Regions from separate parts of the Homo sapiens genome. Here region 2 is linked to region 1. The links come from fine-mapping of genetic effects on gene expression. Tissue or cell type: whole blood. Region 1 holds a variant in brackets; the other region holds the start of a gene. All regions are shown on one strand. Distances are from middle to middle.

Region 1 (8,099 bases):
CCTGCCTGTAGTGGGTAAATGGTCAGAGCCTCCCGGTCAGTTCCAGGCTGCAGCTGTCCAATGACAAGAGGACCCTCACTCTACTCAGTGTCACAAGGAATGACACAGGACCCTATGAGTGTGAAATACCGAACCCAGTGGGTGCCAGCTACAGTGACCCAGTCACGCTGAATGTCCTCTGTATCTTCTGTTCCTCTGTGGCCCAGGCTTCCAGCCCAAATCCACACAGCCAGAGGCCAGGCCTCTCAGTCCCTCTCAAGTCCAGGGACTCAGACTCTCACCCAGGCTGGCCATCACTTCCTGTCCCAAGCAAACCTGGGCAGACCCAGCCTTGACCAAGAATAGGAGGGGAGAGGCTGCTCCTGTCCTGGGAGGCTCAGGGTCCACAGCCTGTGATGGGAGAAACAGGTGAATATCTCAGACCCAGACTCAGTGGACAGATTGGGTTTCGTTAGGACTTCAAGGTTGTGACTTGGCTCACAGGGACACTGTGGCTCTTCCACAGACCAGGAGCTTCCCCTTCCCTTTGATGATATCATCTATGACTTTATTCTCGCTACTCCAGATGGACCGGGCATTCCCACCATTTCCCCCCCAGACTCCTATTACCATCCAGGGGCAAATCTCAACCTCTCCTGCCACATGGCCTCTAACCCACCTGCACAGTACTCCTGGTTTGTCAGTGGAATGCTCCAGCAACACACACAAAAGCTCTTTATCCCCAACATCGCAGTGGATAAGAGTGGATCCTATGCTTGCCTCGCCCATAACTCAGCCACTGGCCTCAGTACAATCACAGTCAAGACAATCACAGTCTCTGCTAAGTGGATCCCTGGAGCATAGGCCCTGAGCCCTGGGTAAAGCCACTCAGTTTTCTGAAAGAGCCTAGAAGTTTATTTCCCAGCCCATGTCTTGGACACAAGCAAATCCCAAACTCTACCCTGAGCCCTCTCACTCCACCTCTGCAGGACCCCTCCTCCCCTTGTTGTTCTGATTTCTCACAGCTGACCTTGGGGCCAGCCTGGAATGTTGTACAAATTTTGTTTTATCACTTACGAGTTCTGTGACCTTCCTTGACTTACTGAGGTGCTTTAAGTCTCAGATTCTAACTCTGCAGCTGGGGGTGATGCCCCCTCTCCCTCAAGGTGATGTAAGGATGAGATGAGTTGTAGGTAGGTTGGTGCCCACTGGAACTGGCACATGGAAGGCCCCTGAAAACAGTCAATGAACATCATCCCTGCTTATCAGCATTGAGTTGATGCCAAGGGCCTGCCCTTTGTGAGTGTCATGGGATGGAAAAGGAGAAACAGAGGGAAGAGGCATGATGCGAGAGGAAGGAGGGACTAAAAGGCACAGGAGCAGGGTGAGGTGCAGGCACCTCTGGGACAATGTATGAGTTGGTGCCGCCCAGTGTGTCAAGCCTGCAGAAAATGGTGCCACCATGGAAAGCAAGGGAATCTGTGATGAGGACAACACAAGAGACTACACTCAGGCCCCATGGCATCTCCTTCTTCCCTGACTGCACACCTTCCCTGCAAGGCCCCTGTGGTTTCCTCTGGGATAGACTTGGGCCTCTATCCCCTTTGCCTTCTTCTTTCTGCAGAAGAAAATGCCCCAGGCCTTCCTGTGGGGGCCGTCGCCGGCATCGTGACCGGGGTCCTGGTCGGAGTGGCGCTGGTGGCCGCGCTGGTGTGTTTCCTGCTCCTTGCCAAAACTGGAAGGTACCACAGCTTTTTCCCATCCTTCTCCCACCCCCTAGGCTGACTCCAGGCCAAAAGAAAGGAGACCTTGTCCTGTATTCAGGGCCAGGCTCTCCACGGCCTCCCAAGTCCCCAGGGATCCTTCCCTCTTATTCCACGGCTCCTCCCTCGTCAGCTCCTGACCCTGGGTTGCTGCCTCAACAGCTTCCTCCTCTGTGAATTTGGCCCAATTAAGGCCCCACCCCTGAGTGTGGCCCTAGTTCCCTCACACAGCAAAGCCACAGCTGCCTGGAGGGAGGGAGAGAAGGAGGGAGGGAAGTAGGGAGGGAGGGAGGGAGGGCGTGCTCTGTACTTGGTACCTCCCATTGTTCATTGAATCCATCCACACAGTGAGGGGGATTTGCAGGCTCCGGATCCTGGGCACCGTCACACAATGGGGAGTGGACCAGCCTGGACAGGCTGGGTGGGGTCAGTGCCCCCCATGGCTGATGTGGTAACCATAGGCCCTGAGGTGTGAGATGGGAGAACCTGGGCCTCAGAACAGCATGTCCTGGAGCGTCCTTTGTGTCTCTTGCCAAGGGGTTGAGAGAGAGGACAAGGACACTGTCCCATTTCAGCATCACCAGCCCTGAGTGCAGGGTCTGGCCACAGCAGGGACACTGAGTTCCAGGAGAATCCAAGACACTTGCGGTCCCCTCCGTGTCCTGCACACGTGGCCCTGCTTTGCCTCTGGGGACTTGACCCTTCCTCTCAGGCAAACCCTCGTGGTCTGTTTCCTTCCTTGGGTCCTCAGTCCCTTTCCTGGGTCCCTGGGTCAATGTTCTCCTGGCCCGGCATCTGCCTGAGGGTCCTTCCCCTCTGCTCAGGACAGATGTGGGTTCCTAAAGCCTTTCCTCAACTCCCCTCTGCTGGGCTCCCCCTAACACAAACCTGAGGGAGACAGGAGGTCTCCATGCCCATCCTTGAAAATGGGTTTCCCTTCTTGTCCCCTGTTCGAACTCCAAAGTTGTGGCTTTTAACCTGGCACCCTCCCAAATGACCCTGACCTTTCCTAGAACCAGCATCCAGCGTGACCTCAAGGAGCAGCAGCCCCAAGCCCTTGCCCCTGGTGAGTGTCCTCTCAGCCCAGGTGTGGCTGGGAACCCCTAGGACAGCCCCACAGTGTCCGCTCCTGCCAGTCACTGCCAGGCAGACTCTGATCCTTTCCCGGGGGCTGCAAGGAGGATCTCATAAAACATCACACAGGGGACCCCAATTGCTTGGGTCAGCCCTCACCTGTGGGCTCTGGGTCATGGGTCACCTCCCCAACCTCAGCTGCTCAGGTATCTTAGAGCTGAGGACCCCCTACGCCTTCCTGGAGAGGGGATAAGGCTCTCCTCCCACCCTGCTGCTCACTCCTGTCTCTGTTTCCAGGCCGTGGTCCCTCCCACAGCTCTGCCTTCTCGGTAAGCCTGTCCCCTTCCAGCCCCTTTCTACTGGGGTCCCAGCTGTGCAGGCTCTGGGCAGAGGGACCATCAGCCCCCCAGCACAGAACAGACCCACCTTCCCCCAAAACACACAGGACAAGGCTAGCCCTGCCCTGGCCAGGAGCTGGGCCTCCCTACAGGGTCAGGACCACCCACGCCCTGTGCTGACCCCTCCCCGGGACCCTCCATCACCTGAGGAGACCCCTGGAGTGCAGCAGGTGCAGAGTGGACACTGGGACCATCAGTCAGGGGCCCACATTAACAAGGGTGCAGGGTGGGCCCAGCCAGGAAAAGGGTCAGGGTGCTGTGTCCACACTGGGAGGCTGAGCTCAGGGGCAGAGCTGGTCACTCCTGAGGGGAAATGACCAGAAGTAAACACAGAGAAGTAAATCCTGGCCAATCAGAGACAGGAAACTTCCAGGCTGGGCCTCCATGACCCTCCCTCCCTGTCCACAGATGTCCCCTCTCTCCACTGCCCAGGCCCCCCTACCCAACCCCAGGACAGCAGCTTCCATCTATGAGGTGAGTGTGGGCCACGGATGTTCTGGTCCCACAGGCCCCAGGGGACCCAGGATCTTCCCCTACTGGCATCGGCTGAGCTCTGAGATTCAGGAAACTGCTGTGAAAATAAGAACGGGGGTGGCGAGCAGAGGAGGGAGGGGCTTGGGAGCAGGAACCCCCTGAGCACAGCCAGGTTCAGCCCCAGAGCAGCCCTGGATGGGCCCAGAGCCTGGGAGACGCCACACCCTGTTCTGAGGAGACTAGAGGGGTCCAGGCCTCTTCTCTGTTTTAACAGGAATTGCTAAAACATGACACAAACATTTACTGCCGGATGGACCACAAAGCAGAAGTGGCTTCTTAGCTTCCTCCAGGAGCTGCTCCTGTGTGTTGATGGAGAGTCCCCAAGGCCCCCAGCCCTGGGGATGGGGAAGGACATGAAGCCTGAGCCAGAGAACCAGCTATAAGTCCTGAGAAGACACTGGTGTCTGGGGGCAGGGAGGGATGGGGGTCCCTGATGAATATCTGGAGACCTCGACAGCCTGCCCTAGGCCCTGGGTGGGTCAGGACAAAGGCCTCTCATCACCGCAGAAAGCGGGGGCTTGCAGGGAAAGTGAATGGGCCTGTGGCCCACCTGGGGTCACTTGGAAAGGATCTGAATAAAGGGGACCCTTCCTCTCATTAGCTGTTTTTCTGCTAGTGGGAACTTAGCAAAAATTCGCCTGAAACTCCATATCCATTCTCTCCTGGGTCACACAAGGAAAATGTCATCTCCAACTTATTTCAACCCCAGTCTCTCTTCCCTGGGAGGCAGAAATAGGGGGTTGGGAGTCAGGCTGGGGTGGACCCTACACAGGAAAGGGCAGGATTCACAGGAG[A/C]CCTGCCCAGCCAGCTGAGCGCTTGGCTGTGCTCATACTGCCCCAGGGACCCACGGTGCCTAGCCCTGGCCACTGGGTTTCTTCTCTGTCCAAAAGGCCAGTGCTCAGGACATCTTTACCCATATCAGGGGACACACAGAGGGCCTGTCAGAGTAATCAAGGTGAGGACAGACCCAGAATTTAGTCCTGGAGTAAAATCCTCCCAGACACTACCTGGGACTCTAGCCCATCATTTCCCATCAGTTCCCACTTTACCCCCTGGAGTGGATCTCACTGAACAATCCTCCACTCCACACAGGAGATTCCAGGTCAGAGACACAGGGCTCTCTCACCTAAAGCTCACGCAGTCTACCATGGCAATGGGACAACCTCTCTCCTCTTCTCCCTGGCCTGCAGGGCCCTCCACTCAGGCCTCACCAGCAGCTCCACCACATACCTGGGCCGGCAGTTCTCTGTCCCTCCTGAGGGCCCTGGGGAGTGTAATGATCTCATGTAGGTTCACTCAGACCAGGTGTCCCCTTCCCACAATCAGGCTGGTCCCTGCACTAAAGCACAGAGCCACGGTTCCTGAGGGTATTCTGCCACTGCCCAGGGTTGTTTGCCATGAGATGGGAAGTAGGAAAAACAACCTGCAAATTTACATCAGGATTTAGCTCTAAATGACTCCTTACCTCACTTGTACACATCGTCAGATGAGACAAGGTGATGTCTCTTGTGTCAGTTTCCTGTTGATGCTGTGACAAATTCCCACAGGCCAGGCATGTTGGTTTGTGTCTTGGTCCCACTTACTCAAGAGGCTGAGGCAGGAGGATCGCTTGAGCCCAGGAGGTTGAGGCTGCAGTGAGCTCTGATCACACCACTGCACGCTGGCCTAGGCAACAGAGATGACAACTCCATTGTTAACTTAGTGGCATAAAACAACAACGTGTCCACTTGGCTGTGTTCTTCCTGGCAGCTCCAGGGAAAAGTCTGTTCCCTCACCTTTTCCAATTACTAGAGGCCGCCTGCATCCTTAACTTTGGCCCCTTCCTCCATCTTCAAAGCGAGCAGTACAGCATCTTGAAACCTCTCTGTGCTCTGCTTCCATCCTCACTGACTTCCCCGCCTCCCTGTCTCACTTGTATGGTTATTTTGGACCCACCTGGATAAACCACAATAATCTCCCCATCTCATCATCCTTCATTTATCTGCTAAGTGTCTTTGACCATGTGCCATATTCACAGATCTTGGGATGAGGATGTGTGCATCTTTGAGAGGGGCTTGTTCTATCCATCTCTCCTCTCAAGGCCATTTTATCATGATTGTTCACTACAAAGTACACATGGGCACCTGGATAGGGTTATCCTGACTGTGGCATCAGTTTTTGCAGTGACGTCCCAGCACCCTCCAGGTCCTGAGAGAGGGAGACGGAGGGCTCTCCATGCCCCTAGTACCTCTCCACCTTCTCCTCGGTGACAAGCTTAGTTGTTAAGAATAAAAGAGATGTGTCTGGGCGTGGTGGCTCACACCTGTAATCCCAGCACTTTGGGAGGCCGAGGCAGGCAGATCACCTGAGGTCAGGAGTTCGAGACCAGCCTGACCAACATGGCGAAACCCTGGCTCTACTAAAATTACAAAAATTAGCTGCACGTGCTGGCGCACGCCCATAATCCCAGCTACTCTGGAGGCTGAGGCAGGAGAATCACTTGAACCTGGGAGGTGGAGGTTGCTGTGAGCCAAAATAATGCCACTGCACTCCAGCCTGGGTGACAGAGTGAGACTCCATCTCAAAAAAAAAAAAAAAAAAAAAAAAAGAAAAGAAAAGAAAAGAAAAACAAAGAATAAAAGAGATGTGACTGGAAGATCACAACTCACCAGCCCTTCAATCGTTCATGGACATCAGCACCATGGATAGTGACCACGGAAGGGTCATCCCCAGGCACTGCAGCAGGGAGCGCACAGATGGAAAGAAACTGCCGGGAAAAGCTGCCCAGTCTATTCTGCCTGAGAAAGACACAATGAGGGAGAACCTGATTCTTCTCTAATTTATTTGTTGTGAGCCCTGTGCACATGACTAAATGTTAGGGTTGTTGGCAAAGGTTGTTGACGCCCCTGGCAGGGCTGATTTCTGTACCCAAAGTATGACCTTGGAGAGGCTGAGTCTGCTCTGGTTTCCCAGTGAATGTCCCTACCTCTGAGACTCAAGCCATTGTCTCTGCCTACAACACAGTGGGAACTTTTCATGATTAACTTCCGACCCCCGTGCCTGACCTTGGAACCACTACCATCACCCAGCCTGGAGCACTGCCTGAGCACAGCATCCTGTTCCCTGAGCTCCAGCTAAGCCCCTGGGAAGCTGAGCTGAACCGAGCCCCTGAACAATCCTCTCAGTGACTCCAGGCCAGGCCTCGTGCCCCATGTCAGAGGCCTTTGCCATCTGCCAGTCCTTCCCACACAATCCTCCTGAGGGACAAGTGGAGGCCTGAACATCTGTCTCCCAGGGTAGGGCCCAACTTCTCCAGGAGACAAAAACAGACCAGAGTCCTCCCAGTCACCCTCACCCTCCTCATTCCCACCACTTCCCACCCACAGAGGCAACTCTGGTCCTACAGACCCACCCCTGCCCTTCCCAAGAGCTCAGGTCCAGTCAATCAGTGTCCCTGCAGGTCACACACACACACCACTCAGAGTGCTCAGTGGAAGGGTCACTCAGGTCCCCACCGAGAGTCTCCCGTGCTTTGGATGGGTCAGAATCCTCTTCACATCCCACATCTGGGCAGTCAACAAGGTCTTCTCTGCACTGTCCTCGCACCTACAGTGTCTGTCTTGGTCATCCTCGTCATCTTTTCTGAGCACGGCCACAGCTCCTAACAAGTGGGGTTAAGGCTCCTGACAGATAGGGTTAAGGCATAGGACCGTGATTCTGAGGGCTTCTCAGGTCTTGCCTGTTATGTGAAATTAGCATGTACAACACATAGAATTTGTATGTTTACCTCATAATTTTAATGTGCACACCCTTTGATCATTAATTAGTCACATTAAGAAGAGCCTCCCCTGAATCGTGAGTTCTAAGGAGGCAGGAGTACACCTGTCCTGGTCTCTGCTAAGTCCAGTGACAAGCACCCAGTCTGGCACAAGGATGCTTCATAAATACATGTGGAATAAATGAGATCCTCTTACACCCTGCTCACTTCCCTGACTTATGTGACCAGACGGAAACTCCTAATGTACAGGAGAGAAAGGCAGAAATGCTGGAGACCAGCGAGAAAGCTGTTTTTTGAAAGAGCAGCAAGTTCCAGGCCTCTAAAGATACTTCTGGACTTTACGTGGTGCAGAGAAAAAGACAAAACCAATACATTCCCTTCAAACCACTAAAGTGGGTGGGGCCATAGCCTAACTGAGAAAGAAAAAGACCAAGGTAGGGTACAGTTCCCCTAACCCACTTTGTTTCCAGACATCAAAAAATACAGTTTGTGGTCTTGGACTCTGATGTGGAAAAAGTACAAACCAAAAATTGTGTTACCACTAATTTCCTTGCTATGAGCAGTCATGAAATATCAATGTACAACCATACATGC
Region 2 (8,088 bases), 34 kb after region 1:
AAAAAGAATGGAAATAAGGATGATAGCAGAAATCAATGAAATAGTAAACAACAACAAACATTATTACAAAAAAGATCCATTCTATGAAAAGATTTAGTTAGTTCGCTGGCAAATCTGATCAAGGGAGAAGATGCAGGCCGGCACAGTGGCTCATGCCTCTAATCCCAGTGCTTTGGGAGGCTGAGCCAGGAGGATCCCTTGAGGTCAGGAGTTCAAGACCAGCCTGGGCAACACAGTGGCTTATGCCGGTAATTCCAGTGCTTTGGGAGGCTGAGCCAGGACTGCTCGAGGTCAGCAATTTGAGACCAGCCTGGGCAACACCTTGTCTATACCAAAAAAAAAAAAAAGTTTAAAAATTAGCCAAGCATGGGAGTGCCTGTAGTCCCAGCTACTCAGGAGGCTAATGTTGAAGGATTGCTTTAGCCTCAAATCACAAGGTCAGGAGTTCGCGACCAGCCTGGCCAACAAGGTGAAACACTGTCTCTACTACAAATACAAAAATTAGCCCGGTGTGGTGGTACGTGCCTGCAGTCCCAGCTACTAGGGAGGCTGAGGAGGGAGGATCACTTGAACCCGGAAGCCAGAGGTTGCAGTGAGCCGAGATCATGCCACTGCACTCCAGCCTGGGCAATAGAACAAGACCCTGTCTCAAAAAAAAAAAAAAAAAAAAAGTGAAGAAATGCACAAACCCAGCAATAACCAAGGAAATGCAATCTGTCAAATTGTACATCTATCAGACTGGTAAGGATCAGAAAGCTGGGAAAAGACAAGTGTTGGCAGGTATGTGGGGATAAAGGAACCCTTGGCCCCTGATGCTCATGGCATTATTTGGAGGGCTGGGGAATAAAACACTATTTCTGGACTCTGAGAAACAAAGGAGTTGAGAGTTCTGACCAGGATCTCAGGCCCAAAGCAGCATTGCAGGGGTCTGACACTACATGGTCAAATTGGGTTTATAAATACCCATTTCCAGTATACCCTACATAGGTATTACAAAAATGTCCACCTTCATCTACAAAGGAACATGCACAATAATGCAGCATTTTTTTTTTCTGAGACTGGGTCTCGCTCTGTTGCCCAGGCTGGAGGACAGCTGTGCTCACTGCAGCCCCCACCTGCCAGGCTCATGCAATCCTCTCACCTCGGCCACCCAAATAGCTGGGACTACAGGTGTGCGCCAACACACCCAGCTTTGTAGAGATGGAGTTTTTCCATGTTGCCCCAGCTGTTATCAAACTCCTGGGCTCAAGCAATCCACCCACCTCGGCCTCCCAAAGTGCTGGGATTACAGGCATGAGCTCCCATGCCCAGAGAATGCAGCATTATTGTGGTGATGGTAGGTTGAGACAATGGGAGCTTCCCTCTCTGAGACCAAGTGAATGCAAAACATGCTGGGGATGTACGCTATGGAATATCACGCAGGAGTTGGAAGAAGTTGATTAGATGTACACAGGATGTGAGGCAGGGTACAGTGGCTCACGCCTGTAATCCCAGCACTTCGGGAGGCTGAGGTGGGCGGATCACCTGAGGTCAGGAGTTCAAGACCAAGCTGGTCAACATGGCAAAATCCTGACTCTACTAAAAATACAAAAATTAGTCGAGTGTGGTGGTGGGAGCCTGTAATCCCAGCTACTCAAGAGGCTGTGGCAGCAGAAGAATTGCTTGAACCCAGGAGGTGGAGGGTGCAGTAAGCCAAGATCACACCATTGCACTCCAGCCTGGGCAATAAGAGTGAAACTCCGTCTAAACAAAAAAAAAAAAAAAAAAAAAAAAAAAAAAAAGTACACATCATGACAGAATGACAGAATGTGTACATGGATAGATTGTAAAATCACAGTGCTGATTATTACAAATAGTATATAACATAATATCACTTGCATAAATTAAAAACTCAAACAGAGGTCGGGTGTGGTCGTTCATGCCTGTGATCCCAGCACTTTGGGAGGCCAAGGCAGACAGATCACTTCAGGCCAGGAGTTCTGGACCAGCCTGGTTAATATGGCAAAACCCCATCGCTAAAAAAAAAAAAAAAAAAAAAAAAAAAAAAAAAAAAAAAAAAAAACCCCAACAACAACACTACACACATCCTGGGAGAACACACACACAAACCAAAAGATACATATTAACCACCTTAGAATGAGAATTGCCTATAAGAAGGTTAGGGAATGAAAGTGGGGAATTGGTGGAAAATAACAGTGTAGGAGGGGGTACAAAGATCACTGACCTTGGCCTCAGAGACCCAGGTTGGAATCTTTACCCCTTCATTTACTAGCTGTCCAATTTGTTGAACTCAGAGCCTACTACCTTCTTTATAAAATGAAGTATAATACATCTCATAGGGTCATTGTGAAGATCAATAAAATTATTACCATAAGTATTAGGCAAATGCTAAGCTCTTTATAATCGTTGGTTACCCTGTTCCTCTACCACTATCCCTCCCTCCCACACACACTTCCTCTCACTCTCTCTCCACTACCTAAAGGATCAAGTTCAACCTCTTTAGCTGGCCTTTAAGCCTCCCCCGACCACACCCCACCCCACCCCAGATAAGCGCCACCCAACCTTTCCAATTTTATCTAGGACAGCTCCCCTGCCCAGCAGTCCAGCTAGAGGTCACGTCGGCCACCCTTTTCTGCCTGCAATGCCTCAGACACACATGCTCTGTAACCCAGAAATCTGTGGCCAAGAAAGGTGCCAAGACCCGCAGAAAAGCTGGGACACAGGAAAGAGAAACGAAGGCTGACAACAGATCTCACGGGGGTGAGGGAGATTAGGCCAATCAGAGAAGACAGCACACGCCAGCCTCAGATGCAGAACAACTGGACCTGGACCTAACAAGCTGAGTACAAGTGGAGACGCAACCAGAAAAGATTGAAGTGAAATCCTCAAGCAAAAAAAAAAAAAAAAAAAAAAAAAAAAAGGATGGAGCAGTAGTCAGAGGGGATGCCACCCCTACAAAAGACAAACAAATTGATGGAATGGAACCTTGCAGGGAGAGAGAGGACCAGCAGAGAGAGGGAGGCGTAGGAAAATGAGGAGTGGGGCACAAAGGTGGGGCTCTCAGGGAGAAGAGGAGTCGATTTTAGAGGGGGAGAAGAAAAGGACACAGAGCTGGCTGTACAGAGAAAAGGGGCCAAGGCAGAGAAGATGGCGGGATGGTGTGAGACGGAGTTCACAGAAATACCCAGAGAAGGCGACGATTACACAGAGGAGCCCCCAGAGGGGCGAACTCTTGAGGAAGATGAACGCGGAGGGTGGAGCCAGCCAGAAATTCAGAAAAACTAGAGGCGTCCCCGGTAGCGAAGGAAGCCGGGAAGGGGCCAGGCTATCAGGGCATGAAGCACGGGAGAAAATGGGTCCGAAGAGGGAGAGCGTCCGAGAGAAAAGGAAAATCAGAGATTAGGAAAATCACAACCGACACAAAGACAAGAAGAGACACAAGGAAAGGGGTGCAATCTGAGGAAGGAGGGCCCGGTAAGCAACCCGGTAATCACAGCGCTGGGAGAGAACGCATAAAAGAAGGGTAGCTCAGGAGTTGTGGGGCACCGGAAGAGACATAACAGAAAACGCAGGCCTCCACTCAGCAAAAACAAGCCACGCGCGAAGTCGAGGTACAAGGCAAGGGAAGGCCAGAAACGAGGCAACCCGTGCACAGACCGGGCTTGGTCAACGCCCCAGGGGCGGGGCCAGGCGGGCCGTTCCTGGGGGGCGGGGCCAGCCTCGGTCCAATAAGGGGTACTCGACGCCCCATTGGCCACCTGCCTCGAAAGGGGGAAGACAGTCTGGGCGGGCAGGACGTGCGGAGGGAGAGGCAGCGGTGGCGCGAGGCTCAACTCGAAGCGCTATTGGTGGGACTGATAGTCTTGTGCGCCAAGAAGCTGGCAGAAGGGAAGGGGCGGGACATCAGTTCAGGATCTCAAACCGCATTGGTCGTCTGCCTCGGCTGAGAGAGGCGATGCTTGAAGTTCATTGGTCTTTGTGAGACAGGGTAAGAAAAGCAGCGCGAGCTTGGCGGTTCCTCTGGCCACTTTCTCACAGTGTCTTTGGGCGTCTTCTTGACTGAATCTGACTCCATTGGAGGCTGTGGTAACCGTGAACTAGCTGCACGAACACGGTCCCTCCTGCCTTTCCGTCCTCCTCCCTCTTAGCCGGACTCCCTAACCCAGGCATCCCCTCTCCTCCCCCTCGCGCCCCTCCCGCCCTCGCGCCCCCTCTCCCCTTCCCTGCCTCGCGGGCCCCTTGGCGCGTTCCCGGTTCCCCACTCGCTCCCTGGGGCACGGGAAGGGGGGAGGGGGACATGCATGAAATTAATTGTTGGTAGTGGCCACAGGAGCAGGAAGCGCTGGACACAGTGACTTCACATGTTTACACAAAAACCTGAATAAGGTGTGAGCGCAAGAGAGACATTAGTGCCCCAAGGAGAAGGTTTTTGGCCCAGATCAGGGCCTAGCACATGACAGGGGCTCAGTAACCATTTGTGGAATGAATGAAGGAGTGAAGGAAAATAACTTGAAAGTGGGGCAGGTGGCGGGTGCGGTGGCTCATGCCTGTAATCCCAACACTTTGGGAGGCCGAAGCAGGCAGGTCGCTTGAGGCAGGTCAGGAGTTCAAGACCAGCCTGGCCAACATGGTGAAACCCCATCTCTACTAAAAATACAAAAATTAGACGGGCGTGGTGGCACAGGCCTGTAATCCCAGGTACTCGGGAGGCTGAGGCAGGAGAATTGCTTGAACCCAGGAGGCGGAGGTTGCAGTGAGCCGGGATTGCACTACTGCACTACAGCCTGGGCTACAGAGTGAGACTCCATCTCAAAACAAAAAAAAAGAAAGAAAGAAAGTGGGACAGGGGAGCCAAGCATAGTGGCTCCAGCCTGTAGTCCCAGCTACTGGGGAGGCTGCGGCAGGAGGATTGCTTGAGCTCAGGAGGTGGAGGCTGCAGTGAGCCATGATCACGCCACTGCGCTCCAGCCTGGGCAACAGAGCGAGACCCTGTCAATAAAAAAAAAAAGAAAGTGGAGCAGGGAATCCATGAGAATAAGGTAATTATTGGGGGTGCAAGAGAGGGTTCTGATTTAAAGGGGTACAAGAACAAAATAAGACTAAAGGAATGCAAGGAGGCAGTTGCTTTGCAGGGCATAGATGAGACTAAGAATTGAAATTGAACTAAGAATTGAAAGGGGCATAAAACTACTGGTAGGCATTGGATGAATGCATGAGAGTGGGGTGAGCATTGTTGAAGAGGATGCCAGGAAACACTGTTGGGACGGAACAGGGTGCTTGTGAAAAGGGGATGTAGGACTCGCTGAAGGGGTATGTGAGGACATGAGTAGGTTGGAACCTAGGATGTGTGTGTGGGTGGGAAAGTGTTTGGATTGAAAGAAAAGAATGTTTGAATTGAAAGAATACAGAATGTCGGGCGCAGCAGCTCATGCCTCTGATCCTAGCACTGTGGGAGGCCAAGGCAGGAGGATCGCTTGAGCCCAGGAGTTCGAGACCAGACCAGCCTGGGAAACATAATGAGACCTTGTCTCTATAAAAATAAAAAACAATTAAAAAAAAATTTTTTTTTTGAGACAGAGTCTTGCTCCGTCACCCAGGCTAAAGTGCAGTGGCGCGATCATGGCTCACTGCCAGCTCTGCCTCCCGGGTTCACGCCATTCTCCTGCCTCAGCCTCTGGAGTAGCTGGGACTACAGGCACCCGCCACCACGCCCAGCTAATTTTTTGTATTTTTAGTAGAGACAGGGTTTCACTGTGTTAGCCAGGATGGTCTCGATCTCCTGACCTTGTGATCCACCCGCCTTGGCCTCCCAAAGTGCTGGGATTATAGGCTTGAGCCACCGCACCCGGCCTAAAAATTTTTAAATTAAAAAAAGGGGGGACGGGTGCAGTGGCTCATGGCTGTAATTCCAGCACTTTGGGAGGCCGAGACAGGCAGATCACTTGAGGCCAGGAGTTCGAGACCAGCCTGGCCAACATGGTGAAACACCATCTCTACTAAACATACAAAAATAAAAAAAAATAGCCGGGCATGGTGGCTCTTGCCTGTAATCCCAGCTACTCAGGAGGCTGAGGCAGGAGAATCGCTTGAACCCGGGAGGTGGAGGTTGCAGCAAGCCAAGATCGTGCCACTGCACTCCAGCCTGGGAGACAGAGTGAGACTCCATCTCAAAAAAAAAAAAAAAAAAAAAGAAAGAACACAGAAGAGGAAGAGGAGAGGGGTTTCTGAAGAAGGAAGATACCTGAGAAATGTCATGGGGTAAAGAGGGGAGAAAGCTGGGAAAGAAGCCAGAATCAGGGCGGGGTCTAAAGAGGGGCAGGATGGAGACCTGCAGGTGTGGTCTCCAGGGCAGGAGGGTTGTTAGGGGCAGGCCCACCTGGCTATGCTTACCTTCCACTCCTGCCCCTAGATCCATGGAACCCAGTGACATGCCTGCTGGCTACCACTGCCCCTTAGACTCTGCCCCCTGGGATGAGACCAGAGACCCCCAGAGCACAGAGCTGATCCCCAGGAGAGCCATCAGCCGCTCTCCAACCTGCGCCCGCTGCCGCAACCATGGTGTCACCGCCCATCTCAAGGGCCACAAGCGCCTCTGCCTCTTCCAGGCTTGCGAGTGTCACAAATGTGTCCTCATCCTGTGAGTATGAGGTCTGGGAGGGGAGGAGGATGAGCCTCCTCCAAAGGGTGGCTGACCTTTGACTTGCAACTCCCCACTTTTAGGGAGCGCCGCAGGGTCATGGCTGCCCAGGTGGCCTTGCGTAGGCAGCAGGAGGCGCAGCTAAAGAAGCACCTGATGAGGAGAGGGGAAGCCTCTCCCAAAGCTCCCAACCACTTCAGAAAGGGAACCACTCAGCCACAGGTCCCCTGTGAGTGTCTCTGACCAGCGATGGGGCAGGAGTTTGGGTACAGGAGGCAGGTATGGGAAAAAGAGGCCCAGTCCTGCTGCTGAATTGGTGTACGACCTTGAACTAAGGGTTTCTACTCCCTCGGCCTCAGCTGTCCCAGCGTTGAGAGAATGCAGCGAGTTCTGTGGGTCAAAAATGGGCTAGAGGCCGGGCACAGTGGCTCACGCCTGTAATCCGAGCACTTTGGGAGGCTGAGGCAGGCAGACCACGAGGTCAAGAGATCGAGACCATCCTGGCCAACATGGTGAAACCCCGTCTCTACTAAAAATACAAAAATTAGCTGGGCTTGGTGGCGCATGCCTGTAGTCCCAGCTACTCGGGAAGCTGAGGCAGGAGAATCACTTGAACCCAGGAGGCGGAGGTTGTAGTGAGCCAAGATCACGCCACTGCACTCCAGCCTGGGCGACACAGCAAGACTCCATCTCAAAAAAAAAAAATGAGCTAGATGGGGGAGATGAGAACTGTCTGGGGTTGGGGTAGGATAGGGGTCAGGAGAAAGGGCTCATTAGAGCTCTCCCTGGTCCTTCACAGCTGGAAAGGAGAACATAGCACCCCAGCCTCAGACCCCCCATGGGGCAGTCCTGCTGGCACCGACACCCCCCGGGAAGGTAAGGAGAGGCTGGGGCCTGAGAAAGTGTCCCCCACCCTAGTTCCTACCCAGACCCTTTCTTCTGTGCCCTCAACACCTGGGTTCTAGCCCCAGCCCTGGTTTGCTATGTAATCTAGTCAAATCACTGCTCTTCTCTAGGCAAAATGAGGGGAAAACGAGGGCCTCCCAGCCCCAAAGTTTTGGGGTTCTGCCCGTATCCCAGAATACACTCAATCCTTTTCCAGCCTTGTACCCAACTCCAGCCTGTGCCCTCTGCCCCTGCAGAACTCCTGTGGGCCTCTGCTGCTCAGCCATCCCCCGGAAGCCTCGCCCTTGTCCTGGACTCCGGTGCCTCCTGGCCCTTGGGTCCCTGGACACTGGCTGCCTCCAGGCTTCTCCATGCCACCACCAGTGGTGTGCCGCCTGCTGTACCAAGAACCTGCTGTCTCTCTGCCTCCCTTCCCTGGTAAGATGATAATTCAACATTCATTCAACATATATTTGAGTGCCAATCTGCCACATATTGGAGAGGGAAGAGGAAGAAAGCATAGGTGGGGAGAGGGAGGAAAGAAACTATGACCTTGGCCCCTATAC

What was found. PIP is the estimated chance that this variant, and not a neighbour inherited with it, causes the effect.
Region 2: it holds the start of DMRTC2, and the variant in region 1 is fine-mapped to the expression of DMRTC2 in whole blood (TOPMed, PIP above 0.99).

Annotation. Positions count from the first base shown.
Region 1 is chr19:41,807,210-41,815,308 of GRCh38, forward strand. CEACAM3 (CEA cell adhesion molecule 3) reads left to right here. Exons shown (of 7, transcript NM_001815.5): 3 at 1,604-1,721; 4 at 2,756-2,808; 5 at 3,114-3,145; 6 at 3,623-3,688; 7 at 3,963-4,345. The coding sequence ends at 4,028. It also overlaps the pseudogene LOC100422623. Among named protein-coding and RNA genes, the nearest start is that of CEACAM3, 15 kb to the left of the region's middle. The variant A/C (reference allele first, on the strand shown) is at 4,543.
Region 2 is chr19:41,841,016-41,849,103 of GRCh38, forward strand. It overlaps DMRTC2 (DMRT like family C2), which reads left to right and starts at 4,027. Exons shown (of 9, transcript NM_001040283.3): 1 at 4,027-4,086; 2 at 6,410-6,637; 3 at 6,721-6,866; 4 at 7,437-7,513; 5 at 7,780-7,960. The coding sequence starts at 6,414. LYPD4 (LY6/PLAUR domain containing 4) reads right to left here and starts at 3,668. Exons shown (of 5, transcript NM_173506.7): 1 at 2,563-3,668.